Linked DNA regions of Homo sapiens: region 1 is linked to region 2. The links come from fine-mapping of genetic effects on gene expression. A gene starts in region 2. The other region holds a variant in brackets. All regions are shown on one strand. Distances are from middle to middle.

Region 1 (8,392 bases), 43 kb after region 2:
ATGGCAAATTATTTCATGGCTAATCCTTCTTACAGACCTGAAATTGTTCTTTTTAAAAAAAACTTTGGTGGGTTTTGAGATCCCCTCCTTTGATTCTCAGATGTGGCTGTTAGTAGTTTAATTTCTGTATGTGGTTTCTGAGTAGCTTCCAACAACCTATTTTTGTTAACAGTTCTTTAAAAAAAAAAATGCTCGAGAGAAAGGAATCTTAGGAACGGATTCCGTCTGTGAAATGCAAGGGAGAATTTTGGCCAAAGTAGAAGGAATGGAATGGATGACATAAAGGGTGACATTTGTGCTCAGAGTTGATTTCTTGGTGATAGTCTCATGTCTAATTTGAGGTTCCAGAAGCCCTTTAAAGGGTGGATGAGCTGCACAAATGGATGTGAGGGAGTTACACAGTGGTGGGTTCAGCAGAAAGTAAAGGAGCAGCAGAATCACAGAGAGAAGCCCCGAACTCTGGCTGCCCGGGCCCAAGGAACCCTCACCCTTAGCGGGACTTTGCTACCTTTGCACTCTTTTAACCTGGGTCTAGAGCTCATGGATCTGGCAAGGGATGAAAATATAAGCAGACAGTATTAATATGTGAGCCCCTGAGCTCTCTCCCTTCCTCACGCCAGTTCGTGAGTCTCATCAGTGTGAGACTGTGTTTCAGGTCTCTTGCCCAAGGACTAAGAGTGTGACTATGACTGCACACATTCCATGTGTAGGTGGTGCCCTCTGCTTCCAGATGCCGTGTGCACTATGGTTTCTATTTGAGGGGCTCTCACCTTCTTTTTCTGGCTTCACTCTCTCTCCCCATGTCTCTGTCCTGCTTTCTGCCATGGCTCACAGTGGTGCTAGACAGACTCTGTCCCTTCTTTCTACAAGCTGATCTCCAAATGCTGAAAATCGTGAGCCAGATATTTTTTCCCAGTCCCTTTTTATACCATCAATCTTGCCTTCTCAGTCCATGATCTGGCTATATATCTGAAACTAGCAGTTAATAAGGATTTTGGTATAAAATGCATGATTGATAAATATATTAAAGTTTATACATATATATAAATCCTTCTTGTATGCCATTTTCAAAGAAAACAGGCCTCCCTTTGACCTTGCTTTATGTAGATTTATTTCCTAATCTGGAAATGTGGCCAGCTAGAACACTGTTCCTTTCTTCCACTGTGAAGCTGTCCTTTTAGCTGGTAGAAAGCCCTGGACACCACAGCAAGGTGGTGGGGCTTTCCATGGCTAGCTCTCATGGTCATCCTGACTTCCAAAGACAAGCTAGGAAAGTGTTGGCACAGCTGTCTCTAAGAACCCAAGAAGGCCCAGCAGTGTGGCCACATGCCCTGCATAGTGGAAGAACTATTAGGAGGGCTTTCAGAGTTTGAAAAACTCTGGAAAGAGTCGGGATTATCAATATGAACAACTTCATCTAGTCAGGAAAGTTATGCTGGAATTGAACCTGATTCTCAGATAAATGGCTCACTCTGGGGTGTCTTTTCCCACCATGGTCATTCTTTGTTAGCAGGGGAGAGTTGGCACTGGATTTTGTTTTTTGTTTGCTTTTGAGACAGGGCCTCACTTTGTCACCCAGGCTGGAGTGCAGTGGTGCAATCTTGGCTCACTGTAGCCTCAACTTCCTAGGCTCAAGCAATCCTCCCACCTCAGCCTCCCAAGAAGCTGGGACTACAGACGTGCACTACCATACCTGGTTAGTTTATGTGTTTTTTGTAGAGACGGGATTTCACCATGTTGCCCGGGCTGGTCTTGAATTCCCAGGCTGAAGCGATCCCCCTACCTCAGCCTCCCAAAGTGCTGGAATTACAGGCGCGAGGCACTGCGTTTGGCCTTGGCACTGGCTTTTAATTTGCTTTGCATTCTGATTCGATAGCACTTTACCAGACTGAATGCAGACATGCGCTCTCCCCACAGACAGCGGCCCGGGCCAAGGATGGATCCCATTCACCCGGCGCCATGTTTGCCTCAGGCAAAGTGGTCTCCAGGGCCAGGAGACCAAGGCTGGCCTGTGATGTTGTGTCAGGTGCTCAAGGAATCCCAGAAGTGTACAAGACGGTGTGTAGTTTTCGCTCTTTTCTTCATGTCATGGATTGCTGGCTTGAGTTTTAATTAGGTTGCATGAAAGTGCAATTTGTTGGGAACTTTAATCATCTTCCACTGGGGAGCCTTGCTGGGCTGGTTTATTTTCATCCTGCTCCTCCCTGGGTGTGAAGACGGGGTTGAGGGACATTTTAGTACCTGTCTGCTCTCTCCTGCTTTGCTGGCCTTGATAACCACATTTTCTAACACAAAACTTGGGACATGAGAGCCTGACTTCTGCCAATGTTGTGGAGTTTTTTCCTATTTGTTAATTTGATTAAACTGAAAGGTTTATGAAAATATAGAAGTTAAACAACATTGGACACTTAATACATTTAATGAGCTTCCTTTATTTGGAAAGAACCACACTTCACAAGCCAGGGGTCCCTTCAGACAGTCTTGGGAGTCGGATTGCTGGGAGGTGAGGTCCTGATCCAGGAACTTTGAGTTAATGGTGGTCATTATGATGCTGGTGGCAGCTGTGTTCCCTCTGTGTACAGATGAATTCATCCAACCTCATAACAAACCCAGGAGGGAGGTCCTCTCACAACTTCAGCTCAGAGGCGAGGACACTGAGGCCCAGGGCAGTGAGGCCCCTTTGCCAGGCTGCCAAGTGACTGGGCCAGGGTGTCACCCAAGCCAGGCTGGCTTGAGGGTTCATCCTCATGACCCCTGCACTGCCGCTGTTGTGCTGCAGTTAGTGTTTTTCAAGTGGTCTCTGAGTTTTGAGAAGCGACAGGCTGCATACTTGGCTCTTGACCCCCATGACCTCGGTGGCACTGTGCCTCAGCCCCAGGTTGTCAATTTGAAATTGGGTGGACTTCACAGGCACTGGCCTCCAGGGGCCCACGGAGGAGTGTTCGGAGGGGTTTCCACCCAACACGCCTAGTGGGGCTCTGGGTCCCGGCCCCAGAGGCTGAGCCCTACTATCCTTCCCTGAGCTGAGGCCCCCACCCCTTTCATACCTCAAGCTCATCCTGGGCAGTGGCTGGGCCCTGGGCCATTCTGGACAAGGCAGGGTGGTCCTACCCTGAGACCTACCTGGTACAAAGACCTGGGATTGCAGTGAGAAAAAAGCTTTTACCAAATAGCCATCCAGCCGGGTTGAACTCTTCCCAAGCCCCCACCCCTCAACCAGCTTATTACATGCAAGTTTTAAGCTATCCTTGCCTGGAGCCTTCTCTTGCCTTTTGTCAATTGCTGTAATTTTCTGGTAAAGCTATATCAACAAAATGGCAACCATTCCTGCCTCCCACTGTTTATCCCTCCTTCCCCTAGGAAACCCTCCCACATTCCCTGTTTTCAGGATCTTGGTCCCGTGCAGGACTCCAGGCAGCACCCACAGAACCCTGGAGTGGCACAGGCCTCGGTGCCTACTCTACAGCTTTCCTGAGCACTTCTCAGATTCCACACAAAGGGTCCTTGGGACCCAGCATAGCCTGCAGGCAAGAACACCTGGTCAGAACTTCCTCTTGGGGCAGGGATGGTACCAGTAGTGCCTGGTGAAAAGCTTGGTGCTTTAGATACCACCTTAATCCCCAGTTCATACAATGGAGGCTTGGCATAGTGTAGGGCAAGAGGGAGCTTTATCCATGCAGCAGATAGTAGCTGAGGTGTTTTCAGAGGTGGATTAAGTGGCAGTTGATGGGAAACTGTCATTTTTACAGTCCAAGAATGTGGCTGTTTTTTATGGTGGTTAAGAATTCAGGTGTATCTGGAAAAGCAGGTGAAAAAGTAAATGCTAATCTAGTTCAGTTGACAGTTCCGTTGCAGTAGAATCCTCTTGTAGGGGGCAATTTAGCATAGATCAGGACAGCCACCCTGAACATGAACTTCAGGATCAAAGCGACTTGGTGCATAGATGGATGTGTGTTGGGAGTCCACAGTGTTCCTGGCTTCACTCTGGCATCCAGAGTTGATGTC[C/A]TCTTACGAAAGGAAGCAGAATTTTTTTTTTATATGTGGGCTTGAGATGGGATATTAAGTAGGTGGCTGAGGGTTTTACATTATTGCTCCAAGCTTATGAATAATTTAGAGCTACAGTCTGGTTTGCCAGAACTCTCTTCTTGGATTCCAGCCTCTTCCTTCCTGAGAAGGATTCTGTGCTCGTAAACCACAGCCCTGGAGGTGGACTCGGGGGGGGCCTTTTGTCTCATAGACTCTGGCTCGCTCGTCAAGTGGCCTTCCAGGGCATTGCTTCCCAGCGACAGCACATGGTGCTCACCACGGTCCTCACCAGCTCCTCCTCAGCCTTCCTTTAACCCTGTGTCCCCCTCTTATCTCCTGCTTTGGGCACAGGAGGACAGGTGAATGCGGAGGAATGGGGGAGGTTCAGGGGAAATAAGGGCAGATGGGGAAAAACACACATTTTCTAAGAATCAACTGCACACTGTTGCACAGACACTCATACAGCCTCCAGATTTCATGGCTCACTGGGGAATGCTGGGCAGGAACATGCCACAGGCACAGCGGGGCAGCACGCTCACCGGCCGGAGCCCATGCTGGTGCTTGGGGCAGGGCCCTGCACTGAATCCCCTTTGGGTGTCTGTGAGGCCTGTGGTCAGAAGTCCATCTGTGGCCCTCACTGTAACAGTCTAGGGGCTGCTCCACCCAGAAACGTCCGTCCTCTGAGTGTCTGCTCTGAAGAGGATAAGAATTGGTACGACTTCCTTTTTCCTTTCCTCAAAAAACCCCTTTCTAGTTTCACAAGTATTCAGGGATTGAAAATGAAAACAGGCATTACTTGAGGTAAGGCCAACACAGGTTTCCGAAGGAGAGGCAGGTGAGTACTGACACACCACCTCTTCCTGTAACACTGTGGGTGACTATGTCCTAGGCTGAATGGCAATCTCCGCTTGTTCCCTGAGGGGCAGCATGAGGCCTGTGGCTTTTCTGTCCGCTCATGTCAGTACTGAGAGGAAGAAAGTTCTACAATGCTGAACAGTCGGCCGAGGGTGCAGGGCCTGGGTCAATGCTTGCTAGGGCTTAGAGCTGGAGTCCACAGAGGGAGATCTGGGATTCATATCAGATGAGAGGAAGAGCCTAGGAAAGTCCCCTGAACTCTGCTACTTTGTCACTGGTGTGTTTGGTTTTGGTTCTTCCAGGAAGAGTCTGCCGAAGGTGAAGGCCATGGACTTCATCACCTCCACAGCCATCCTGCCCCTGCTGTTCGGCTGCCTGGGCGTCTTCGGCCTCTTCCGGCTGCTGCAGTGGGTGCGCGGGAAGGCCTACCTGCGGAATGCTGTGGTGGTGATCACAGGCGCCACCTCAGGGCTGGGCAAAGGTGGGTCCTGGAGGCAGTGCTGCCAGGGGGCGGGGGTAAGTCAGCCAGGGATGAGGAGCGGCCCAGCTGCACAGGGACCACCAGCGCAAATGCCCGAAGCGGCAGCAGAAGGCCAGATAAGGGAAGTGGGCCGGATGGCACTGTCCTTGGTACAAGTGGAAAAAGCAGGAGCCAAGGCACAGTGAGAAATGACTCAGCGTCAGGGTGGGAGGCAAGTGTGAGAGAAGCAGCCTGGCCCCGGGGGTGGGGTGGGGTGGGGTGGGATGGGATACCTGCCCCTCACAGGGCAGCCCTGCTCAGCCTCAGTTGCTTGCTGAGGTAGGAATTTTATGTGAAATATCCCAATTTCCAAATATGGACAGCTAACTTAAAACGTGTTTTTACCTCTATGAGGACCAAATGAAACATGTCCTTTCCTAGATTCAGCCGGGGCCTCTGGTTCACAGCTTTGGTGCATGCTTTCTCTGGGCCTTGCCATCCCAGGCCAGGCCCCCAGCTGTCCCCTCAGCATGGTCTAGACAAGGTCAAAGACAGATAAATGGTGCCTCAGCTGTTCCAGGGTCTCCAATCTAGGTCCATTCCAACCCAGTGAACACCATGAGCTTCTAAGTCTCAGGAATGGTGTACCGGGACCCTGGCCTGGAGTGTCAAAACCTGGGTTCCCCCTTCTCCCATTTCTGGAAGCCTCTGAGTTACAGGGCTCCATTGTTTTCCTGCCACACACGTATATTGACTTGGCACGTTGCACATGCACACACCATACCATCTGCCATCCACGCTTACTCTGAGTTCCATGGAAGAAAGCTGAGGAGTTCCCTGAATTGTGGTGACCCCACCCGCTGCTACATCTTCTGGTTGGTGATAGCTCAGCTGGAGCTGATGGAGCACCTGCTAAAGTGGGAGGCTCTGGGTCAGGTTCTAGAACAAACAGATGAAAGACAGGGTCCCTTCCTTCAAGGAGGTCACGGTCGTCTGTTGTAAGGAGAAAGGCAAGGACTTATCTCAATATATTGCCATTGCAGTAACATATGCTCTCAAACCAGCCTGGTGGCAACAAGGCACATGTATATGTGCTGACTTGTGCTAAGCACTTTTACATGCATGATCTCACTGACTTCTCACAGCTAAGATTCAGAGAAGGAATGACTAGGACTTCCAGCCAGAAGGTACAAAACCTAGAGTCAAACCCACATCTCTGTCTCTAGAACTCACAGTCTCAAAGCTTCAGCAGGGGAGATGGCCAGGTAGAAGGAATAGGTGGGCTAGTAGACAGAACATTCCAGACAGGCCCAGAGGTAGGGGAGAAGCACGGTCCTGTAGGGACTTATACAGTTGGGTGTTGCATGAACACAGAGAGGCAGGTGGGTCTTTGTGGTGGAAGTGGCTTGCAGTTGGCCAGGGGTGGCCTGGGAAAGCTTTAGGGAGTATGGATTCATTTGTGCACCACTGTGGATGTTAGGTGAGGTCTCCAGGGGTGAACACCATATCTGTCATTGGATATCCAGACCTTTGCAGGGACAGCTGTCTGCAGGCCCTTTGCCATCGTCAGTCCTCTGACCTTACTCAGTTACTATATATAGGGTGGTCAGCAGCCACTTCTCTTGAGCTCAAAGAGAAGCATTTTGTGAAAGTCCTTGAAGAGCATTTGAGGGCTGGCAGAGGTGGAGCTCTGAGTCGCAAGTGCTCCCATCCATGCATGTTTGAGAAGCATGCTGTCATCTTCATTCTGCATCTCCTCTCCTGACACCAAGACTATGAAGGGAACAGAAAATGTCACGGAGGTCACCAGACCTGTCTATGTATCATAAGATGTCAGGCCCTTCCTGGATTCCAGTCACTGCTTATATTCTGCCCCATTTAACTTTTTGGGAACAAGAGTCCCTCCATCCAGATAAAGTAGGGCAGGTTCTTAACTGGCCATGTCAAGTACAGCCACTGTTGATGCCACCAAGGACGTTCTGATGTTGCCTTGCTTCTGTGAGGAGGCAGAGCTATGTTGTCCTCAGTGGCTCTGCCTGCCGTGTCAGCCACCCGGAAGGTTTGGAGTTATGCAACGAGTCTTCAGTTTTCCGTGTTTCTCCTATCTTGTCTCTTGTTTTGTGTACTTAAGCCTCTTGAGCTTGTCCTTGTAGAATAGTGTGGGACCACTGACTAAAGGAACAGAACGTTCTGGATATCTCCTTCCTCCAGCTTTAGCCACAGGGCTGTGCACAGCTCTGTTGATTTCCAGCCAGGCGTGCCAGCGGCACTGGACAGTCATCTGCAGCCCTTCATATATCGTACCTTGGAGTTGTTTTCCTTGGACCCTCCTACCTTCCAATATCAGCTTTTCAATAAATGAAAATGGAATCCTTCCAATCTGTTGTTTTCATTTCTGTCACTCCCTACACAAACTTTCATTTCCTCTCTTTTTAGCTTTGCTAGGAAGCAAAACTCAAACAGGTTTGAGGCAGTCATCTCCCCAAAGCTGTTTAGACTCCAGCGGGACTCCCACCTTTGAAGGGTTCTGTGTCTGCACCCTTTGGTGGCACCTCACAAATGTCCTATGTATTGGTCAGGACAAGACAAAATGGGGTGAGGAAGCCAGCAGGGCCCAAGGTTCCTAGCCTTTGGGAATGATTTATAAACCGGATGAGCAGTTCTAGCCTCAGGAATGCTGGCATCTGGCTTGGAGTGCAGCCATCACCCCCCTCATTCCTGTGGGGGCTCTGCTGCTCTGCTGAGAAGCGCACCAGGGAGGCAGGGTTGGGGCGCTGGGACCAGGCCTCACTACCCAGGGTGGGTGCTCTCTCCGGGCTTTTGCCCTTTGTTGGGATGAGCCAACGAACACACCAACCTCACCTCCTTCAAAGAAGATAGTGTGTCTAGATTGAGTCTACTTAGCACCTCTTTCCCGAAGACTGTCGGGTGTATGGAGAGGCGCCTGGGGGATGAGCAAATGCTGTGTGGGGAGCTGAACAAGAAGCTGTGGAGCACACGGAGGCTTCACACCATGAGACAGACGTCAGGGAGCCTTCCCTCAGACCTCTC
Region 2 (8,392 bases):
CCAAGACCATGCTTCTGTCTGTAAGCTCCCTCTAATAATTATCCTATATGGACAAACTGGATTTGTCTGCTTCCTACGTTTTCTCAGCTCCTTGGGCATTTGGGGGTGGCTTTGGGGGTGGCTTTGATGGAACACTCTCTCTGACATCACCCCAGGGAAGAGGATGAGTGCTTTCTTACAATTAAGTGGGGTAGAAGTCCAGGTTCTCCATATGGTTTCCACTGATACCATGCTGGGGGAGAGTCTCCTCACCTCTCAGTGGGAATGAAAATCCAGCCCTCGGCCGGGCGCGGTGGCTCACGCCTATAATCCCAGCACTTCAGGAGGCCGAGGTGGGTGGATCACAGGCTCAAGAGATCAAGACCATCCTGGCCAATATGGTGAAACCCCGTCTCTACTAAAAATACAAAAATTAGCCAGGCGTGGTGGCGTGAGCCTGTAATCCCAGCTACTCAGGAGGCTGAGGCAGGAGAATTGCTTGAACCCAGGAGGCAGAGGTTGCAGTGAGCCGAGATTGTGCCACTGCACTCCAGCTTGGGTGAGAGAACCAGACTCCGTCTCAAAAAAAAAAGAAAAAATAAAAAATAAAAATAAAAAGAAAATCCAGCCCTCCACTTGGCCTTCTCTGACACCATGCCAGGGAGAGGGGACAGTGGTGCCTCTTTACAGCCTAGCATGCGTGGCAGTCTAGGCTTTCCAAGAGGCAAGCATGGGGATGGGGCTTTTTCTGTGGTTTGGGCTGGATTAGAGCCATTATTGTGTAAACGTTTTCTGTCCTCTGAGGCTGCCCATTTCCTGGTCCTGTGGCTAGAGAGAGAAGGCTTTTCTTAGGGCATTGTCTTTGCCTGTCGGCATTTCCAGGTTGCTTGCTTCCTAGCACCCAGTCTGGGATATATAAGGCAACACCCACCATGTTGTTCCTTGCGTCCCAGGGTGGCTAGCTGGTTTGCCTTCTCTCCAACTTTTGGAGTCTTAGATTGTTTTATATATAATGCCCACAATTTTTAGTTGTACTTAGTAAAAGGAATAGGGAAAATTGTGTCTAGTTCATCTTCCTGGAAACAAAAATCTTCCATCTTGTTTTCATAGAAGGCCATGGAACTGTGCTAACCACTGGAATCTATTTGTTTTGTTTGTTTGTTTGAGATGGAGTCTCGCTGTGTTGCCCAGGCTGGAGTGCAGTGGCATGATCTCTGCTCACTGCAACCTCCACCTCCTGGTTTCAAGTGATTCTCCTTCCTCAGCCTCCTGAGTAGCTGGGACTACAGGTAAACGACACCATGCCTGGCTGATTTTTTTGTATTTTTAGTAGATGGGGTTTCCCCATGTTGGCCAGGCTGATCTCAAACTCCCGACCTCAGGTGATCCGCCTGCCTCAGCCTTCCAAAATGCTGGATTACAGGTGTGAGCCACTGCACCCGGCCCACTGGAATCCTTTTTGTATAATATCCTGGCTGCGAAGTTAGAGTTTTTACACTTGCATTTGGCAGATGCAATTCAAATTGGTTACCAAAACTTTGAAATATATTGAGTTGCTTCTAAAACAAATTCCATGCAGGATTGAAGAGTGGGTAGGCTAAGAGGGTAGCAGGCCTGGGAAATGAACCCCAGGAAACTGACTTAGTCATGCAATAAAGACTCAGGTGTTACCAGTGGAGAGTGTCCAGGTTCTTGGCGTTTTGAACAAACAATTGGACAAAACGCACAAACAAAGCAAGGAAAGAATGATGCAACAAAAGCAGAGATTTATTGAAAACAAAAGCACACTCCACAGGTTGGGAGCCTGCCTAGCAGGTGGCTCAAGAGCCCGGTTACAGAATTTTCTGGAGTTTAAATACCCTCTAGAGGGTTCCCGTTGGTTACTTGGTGTACACTCTATGTAAAAGAAGTAGTGGCCTGTGATCAGCCTGATTGGTTGCAAGAGGGGACCAATCAGAGGTACCTTCAATTTTTCATCTGCCAGGCAGAAAAGCGGGGCAGGTTGCAAAGGGACTAGCTTCTGTTCCTTTTGTTACCTGGGCATGGAAAGTTCGGGTTTTCCTTTTGATTTAGTTCTAGGAAGTCAGCGTGAATTGGCCTTAGGTTCCCTGTCTCCAGACCCTATTTTTCTGCCTTACGGTTCATATTGGGTTTGCTACAAGGATATTCAAACTTTGTGAATTGGCAAGCAGGAATCTAGAGTTTCCAGAACAATGGAGAGGGGCCAGAAAGGTATAAAAACTTTTGTGAAAACGTCAAAAATAAATATTTAGTTAAAAATAAAATTTCCCATTTTCAGATTTTGTGAATATCTGTAAGAATTTCCAGGATATATTAATTCGCTAAAGTTAATAAAAGCAAGAAACAGAAGGACGTTTCAGAATGCTATTGTTTGTGTAACAAGGGGGTGCTGAATACATACATAATTGCTTGGTTATGAATAAACTGGCTCTGGAAGGACACACATAGCTAATAGCATCGTTACCTAGGGGGAGGTGAAGTGGGTCCTGGAGAACAGAAAGGGAGATTTTCCACCTTACACACATTTGCCATCTTATGATTTTGAACGATAAGAGTCCCCCCGCCCCTTCCTTCCTCTGCCCTGCCCCTTCCTTCCTCTGCCCTTTACTCTCTCAATATCCTCTTTTCATGCTTTTTTTTTTTTTTTAAATCACTTCGGGTCCTTTAAAAAATTTACTTGCAAGAAGTACGTACATATTCTGAATAAAATTCATTTTCAGATATATGTATTACAAATATCTTGTCTGTTCTATTGTCTTTCCCTTTTCTCAATGGGGTCTTTTCGGTGTCTTATAGTTACAGACACCCAATTTATCAGCTTTTTCCTTTAGGACTGGCACTTTTTGTGTTCTGCTAACACGTTATTTTCCTCTCTTATGGTCATAATATTCTGCGATTTTATTGTCTAGAGTTGTATTGTTCACATTCAGGTCTACCATCCGTCTAGAATTATTTTACTTGAGATAGGAGTCAAGGTTCATTTCCCCCCAATCGACCTTCAATTGACCTAGCACTATATATTGAAAAAACTCTTCTTATTGCATTACAGTGGCTACTTGTAGGAGGAAAAAGTGACTACATAGCTGCAGGTCTGTTTCTGGTCTCTCTCTTTTTCATTCATTGTTTTTACCTTTGTGCCAGTTATCACACTGTTCTGATTACTGTGGCATTATAATCATCTTGATAACTGTATCGTGAATTCTCCAACTGTGTTCTTCGCCGGAAGTCCACGGAACACCAACCACGACCTTCGGAATTTCCCTCCGGAAGATGAAGGCACTGTAGTTATGCGGGTGGACCCTATCAGATCTCGGGTCCATCGGGTCCTGTGTACACCTTGAGGGACGCCCACCCAACGCGCATGCGCAGCCTCAATGCTGGGATTGGACGGAGCCTCGCCGGCTGCGTACACGTCACTTCCGAGGCGGGAGGATGAAGTTGATTGACTATGGTCTCTCCGGCTACCAGGTAGGGGCTGGGGAAGAAGGAACCTCCGAGATGAGGCGATAGGGTCTGGCCTTGAGCTGAGGCGACGCCCCGGCTTGGGTGAGGGGAAGCGGTGTAGTGGTCGAGCTAAGGCCGCGGGCCCTGGGCGGCTTCCGGATCCCCGCGACGCCGAACTCTGAAGGAAGACTCAGCCCAGGCGCTGGGACCAGAGCCCTGGCTCCGGCGAGTGCGTGGCGGGGAAACCCGCCTGTCGCCGAGGTGTCTTGAGTCCAGTTTCCGCTGCTGGGAATGGGTGTCGCGCCGGGCGCTGTGTGTGAAAGGCCTCGCGCCCACAGGGCTCCTGGCTTCAACCTGTTTATTCCCACATTTCTGCGCGACGTAGGGGAGGCTCCGCAGCGTCTGCGAGTGGCAGGACCGAGGGTTGAGCGCTGGGGGCCAGTGGCACCTTAGCCAGTGACGGCGAGTTAGGACTAGCAAAGGAAGTCCGGTTTTTCAGAAGGCAGGAGGAGGGTGCTGACTCGAGCGTCCACGGGAATGGCTGGTTGAGATATCTTGCTCTTCCAATACTTACTCTGCGGCTTCCTGGCTGTGCGGCTTTGGGCAAATGTTTTAAACTCTGAGTGTTTCTTCAGCTGTAACTTTGGGAGTAACAAGCCCACTCATAAGGTTGTTGTGAAGCGTAAATGAGACTGCGCGTGCAAGGTGCTCAGCTGGTGTCTGGCACATAGTAGGTATTCAACAAATGGTAGCCACATAATGCTCTTTTTTTCAGTTTCCAAACCTTCCATGTAGTGATTGGAGAATCGTGAAGTTACTTTTGAAGTAACGTTTGGGTTTCACACACTCATACATTTAGTAAGCAGAATTCTTGCTTACACTGTTGCCGATTGCAACGGTGTGTTTGCATAATGGAAGCTATGTTTGTGCCTTTGCCAAGGGTGTGGAATATGCCTTCCCTACCATGTACATGTCCCCTTTTCTCCATTCCTTAATAATAGTTGATATTTTTTGAGTGTTTGCTATGTTACAGGCACTGTACTAATCCCTTTACTGAATTATTCAATCCTGTAATAACCCTAATCATAGGAACTATAATTTTTATTTATGGAGGGAGAAATGGGCTTAGAGATGTTAAGAAGTTTATCCAAAGGCATAGAGCTATTAGCCAGGCAAGGTAGCACACGCCTGTAGTCCCAGCTATTTGTTGGGGCTGAGGCAAGTGGATTGCTTGAACCTGGGAGACAGGCTGCAGTGAGCCGAGATCACGCCATTGCATTCAAGTCTGGGTGACAAAGTGAGACCCTGTCTTGGCTGGGCGCAGTGGCTCACACATGTAATCCCAGCACTTTAGGAGGCTGAGGCGGGCGGATCACCTGAGGTCAGGAGTTCGAGACCAGCCTGGCCAACGTGGTGAAACCCCGTCTCTACTAAAAAATACAAAAATTGGCTGGGCGCGGTGGCTCACGCCTGTATTTCCAGCACTTTGGGAGGCCAAGGCGGGCGGATCACGAGGTCAGGACCTCGAGACCATCCTGGCTAACACGGTGAAACCCCGTCTCTACTAAAAAAATTCAAAAAAATTGGCTGGGCTTGGTGGCGGGCGTCTGTAGTCCCAGCTACTAGGGAGGCTGAGGCAGGAGAATGGCGTGCTCCGGATGGCGGAGCTTGCAGTGAGCCGAGATCCCGCCGCTGCACTCCAGCCTGGGCGACATAGTGAGACTCTGTCTCAAAACAAACAAACAAACAAAAATTAGCCGGGCGTGGTGGTGGGCGCCTGTAATCCCAGCTACTCGGGAGGCTTTGGCAGGAGAATCGCTTGAACCTGGGAGGCAGAGGTTGCAGTGAGCCGAGATGCCGCCACTGCATTCCAGCCTGGGCGACAAGAGCGAGGAGACTCCGTCTTAAAAAAAAAAAAAAAAAAAAAGTGACACCCTGTCTCAAACAACAACAACAACAACAACAAACAACAACAAAGGCATAGAGCTAGTAAAGGCCGATCCAATGCCATGTCACTCCAGAACCTAGCGCTTAGCTACAAATTTCATTCATTCCTTCAGATACTTATTGAACGTTTACAGTGTACCAGCATTGTGCTGGGTGTTGTGGATACAATGATGATCAAAACAGATAAAGCCCCTGTCTTTAAATTGCTTATAAATCTAGCAAGGGAGATAGTAAATATATAAATAAAACTAAATATTAATTACGATTGTGATGCATGCTGTGGAGGACAGTAGAGGGTGCTGTGAGGATACATAATGGAGTCACCGGCATGCGGAGGGGGAAATGAGGAGAGACAGGGAAGGCTTTCCCAAGAAAATAATATTTAGCTGAGACTTAAAGGACTGAGTTGGAGTTAAATTGGACAAAGAGCTAACAGGAGGAGGGAAGGGCATGTGTGAGGTCTTGAGACTAGGAGGAGCTTGTATCTTGTTACTTAAAGACCCCTGTGAGGCTGTAGGTGGTGGCTCACACCTATAATCCGAGCGCTTTGGGAGGCTGAGGTGGGAGGATCATGTGAGGCCAGGAGTTTGAGACTAGCCTGGGCAACATAGGGAGACCCCATTTCTACAAAAAATAAAAAATTATCTAGGCGTGCTGGTGTGTACCTGTTGTCCCAGTTACTCAGAAGGCTGAGTCAGGAGGATCACTTGAGCCCAGGAGTTTGCGGCTACAGTAAACTGTGATAATACTACGGCACTCCAGCCTGGGCAGCAGAGTAAGACCCTGACTCAAAAAAAAAAAAAAAAAAAAGAAAAAGAAAAAAATAAGCATTAAACCAGACTGGAATGTATTATGGATAATATGCTAATGCAGTTTCTTTCAGAAAAGAAATCCCACCACTTATTTGTATGCAGCTGAGCAGATACAACCCATTATGTAGTCTCAAGATTAATGGTAATTTGTCCTCTTATAAGAAGACTTGACAGCACCATTTGCTGTACATGTTTTCATAGTTCATTCTAAATTCACCTGGTAATTGGGTTGGTCATCTGTGCTACCTAGTTACTTTTTTCCAAAGGAAAACATGAAACAGCTCTATGATAAAACAAGTAGTTGAGGTGCCTAGGCTAAACTTCCACAGTGATAGGGATAGGGCTGGGGCATTGTCTTCCTGGATATTTCCATTTAAAATAGGGGGTTTGGCTGAGCACGGTGGCTCACGCCTGTAATCCCAGTACTTTGGGAGGCTGAGGAGGGCAGATCACCTGAGGTCAGGAGTTCGAGACCAGCCTGGCCAACATGGCGAACCCCGTCTCTATTAAAAATACAAAAATGTGTGGTGGCGTGTGCCTGTAATCCCAGCTACTCAGGAGGCTGAGGCAGGAGAATCGCTTGAACTGGGAAGCAGAGGTTGCAATGAGTCGAGATTGTGTCACTGTACTCCAGCCTGGGCTACAGAGTGAGACTCCACCTCAAAAAATAAATAAATAAATAAATAAATAAACTTACGTATGTATGTACGTACGTTTGTAAAGGGGGGGTTCCAGGCCCTTCAGAAAAACAGTCCTGGGTTTTACTGTATTTACTGGGTTTAAACAAGCTAAGCTAGGGGTAGTTTATTTAGCCTTTAAAAAGATTTGCATACATATCAAAGGGACAGAGGAATAATTTATAAATACTGGGTTTTTCAAAGAAATGCTGTGAGGAAAAGGAAGGAGAGAAGATCTCTTTCCCTTTGGAAACAGTGAAAATTCAGTTTTAAAATTTTTACTATATGTTTGCATGACAACTAAAAAAAAAATTTACTTACAGTACAGTAAAATGTTGGACTAGAGCAACATCCATAATGTTGGATGGTGTAGGAATTATTCATTCCCACCCCATTATACACATAAGAAACCTTTCTTTGGTAGCCAATGTTATTTTAATGCAAAAATGAACTCTCTATTCTGGAAGGCCATAAGCATGAGGGTGAAAATTGGGATTGAATGGTGTGTAAATTCAGTTTGAAAGCTTCTTGCCACCCACCCAGATAGGAAATACAACAAATTCCTTAGGATTTTACCTGAGCTCTCCCTCCTATCTTCTAAAGTTCCCAGTAACATGAGGCTTGGCCATTTAAACTGCTTAGTGGAGGGAGAGGTCTGTGATGGCCACTGAATTTGCTACTGGAGAAGAGTCTTGATCCAGACCTCAAGAGAGGGTTCTTGGATCTTGTGTAAGAAATAATTTGAGGCCAATCCATAGAGAAAAGTGAAAGCAAGTTTATTAGAAAAGTAAAGAAACAAGAGAATGGCTACTCCATAGGCAAAGCAGCCCTGAGGGCTGCTGGCTGGCCACTTTTATGGTCATTTCCTGATTATATGCTAAAGAAGGGGTGGATTATTCATGAATTTTCTAGGAAAGGGGTGGGTAATTCCCGGAACTGAGAGTTCCTCCCCTTCGTAGACTATATAGGGTAACTTCTTGACATTGCCATGGCATTTGTAAACTGTTATGGTGCTGGTAGGAGTGTCTTTTAGCGAGCTAATGCCTTATAATTAGCATATAATGAGCAGTGAGGATGACCAGAGGTCACTTTCATTGCCATTTTCCATTTGGTGGGTTTTGGCCGGCTTCTTTACCTCAGCCTGCTTTATCAGCAAGGTCTTTCTGACCTGTATCTTATGTGACCTCCTATCTCATCTTGTGATTTAGAATGCCTAACCTGCGAATGCAGCCCAGTAGGTCTCAGCCTTATTTTACCCAGCCTCTATTCAAAATAGAGTTGCTCTGGTTCAGATGACTGATAAATTGATTGAATATTGCTTACCAGTGGTTTGAGCTTCCTTGCTGTACTTAGCTAGTGTTTTATTAAGTAAGGCTATGTTTGTACTAGGAACACTAATTTCTGAAGGGGATATAAATTTTTCCAGTTTATATGAGCAGCACTTAGTGGTCATTAAATTGGATACTACTACATTAAGAAACTACCATTGCAGAATTCTCTATGAGTATGGCA

Alleles and levels. Alleles are on the strand shown, and positions count from the first base shown. SD is a standard deviation of normalised expression in the study named.
For the expression in fibroblasts of the gene that starts at base 3,441 in region 2, allele C in region 1 goes with a lower level than allele A (small effect, 0.13 SD a copy in GTEx).

Evidence for each region.
Region 1: its variant is fine-mapped to the expression of DHRS7B in fibroblasts (GTEx, PIP 0.94).

Annotation. Positions count from the first base shown.
Region 1 is chr17:21,166,835-21,175,226 of GRCh38, forward strand. It overlaps DHRS7B (dehydrogenase/reductase 7B), which reads left to right. Exons shown (of 7, transcript NM_015510.5): 2 at 5,184-5,362. Among named protein-coding and RNA genes, the nearest start is that of TMEM11, 43 kb to the right of the region's middle. The variant C/A (reference allele first, on the strand shown) is at 4,006.
Region 2 is chr17:21,123,524-21,131,915 of GRCh38, forward strand. DHRS7B (dehydrogenase/reductase 7B) reads left to right here and starts at 3,441. Exons shown (of 7, transcript NM_015510.5): 1 at 3,441-3,468. The coding sequence starts at 3,449. RefSeq lists an enhancer at 3,103-3,762.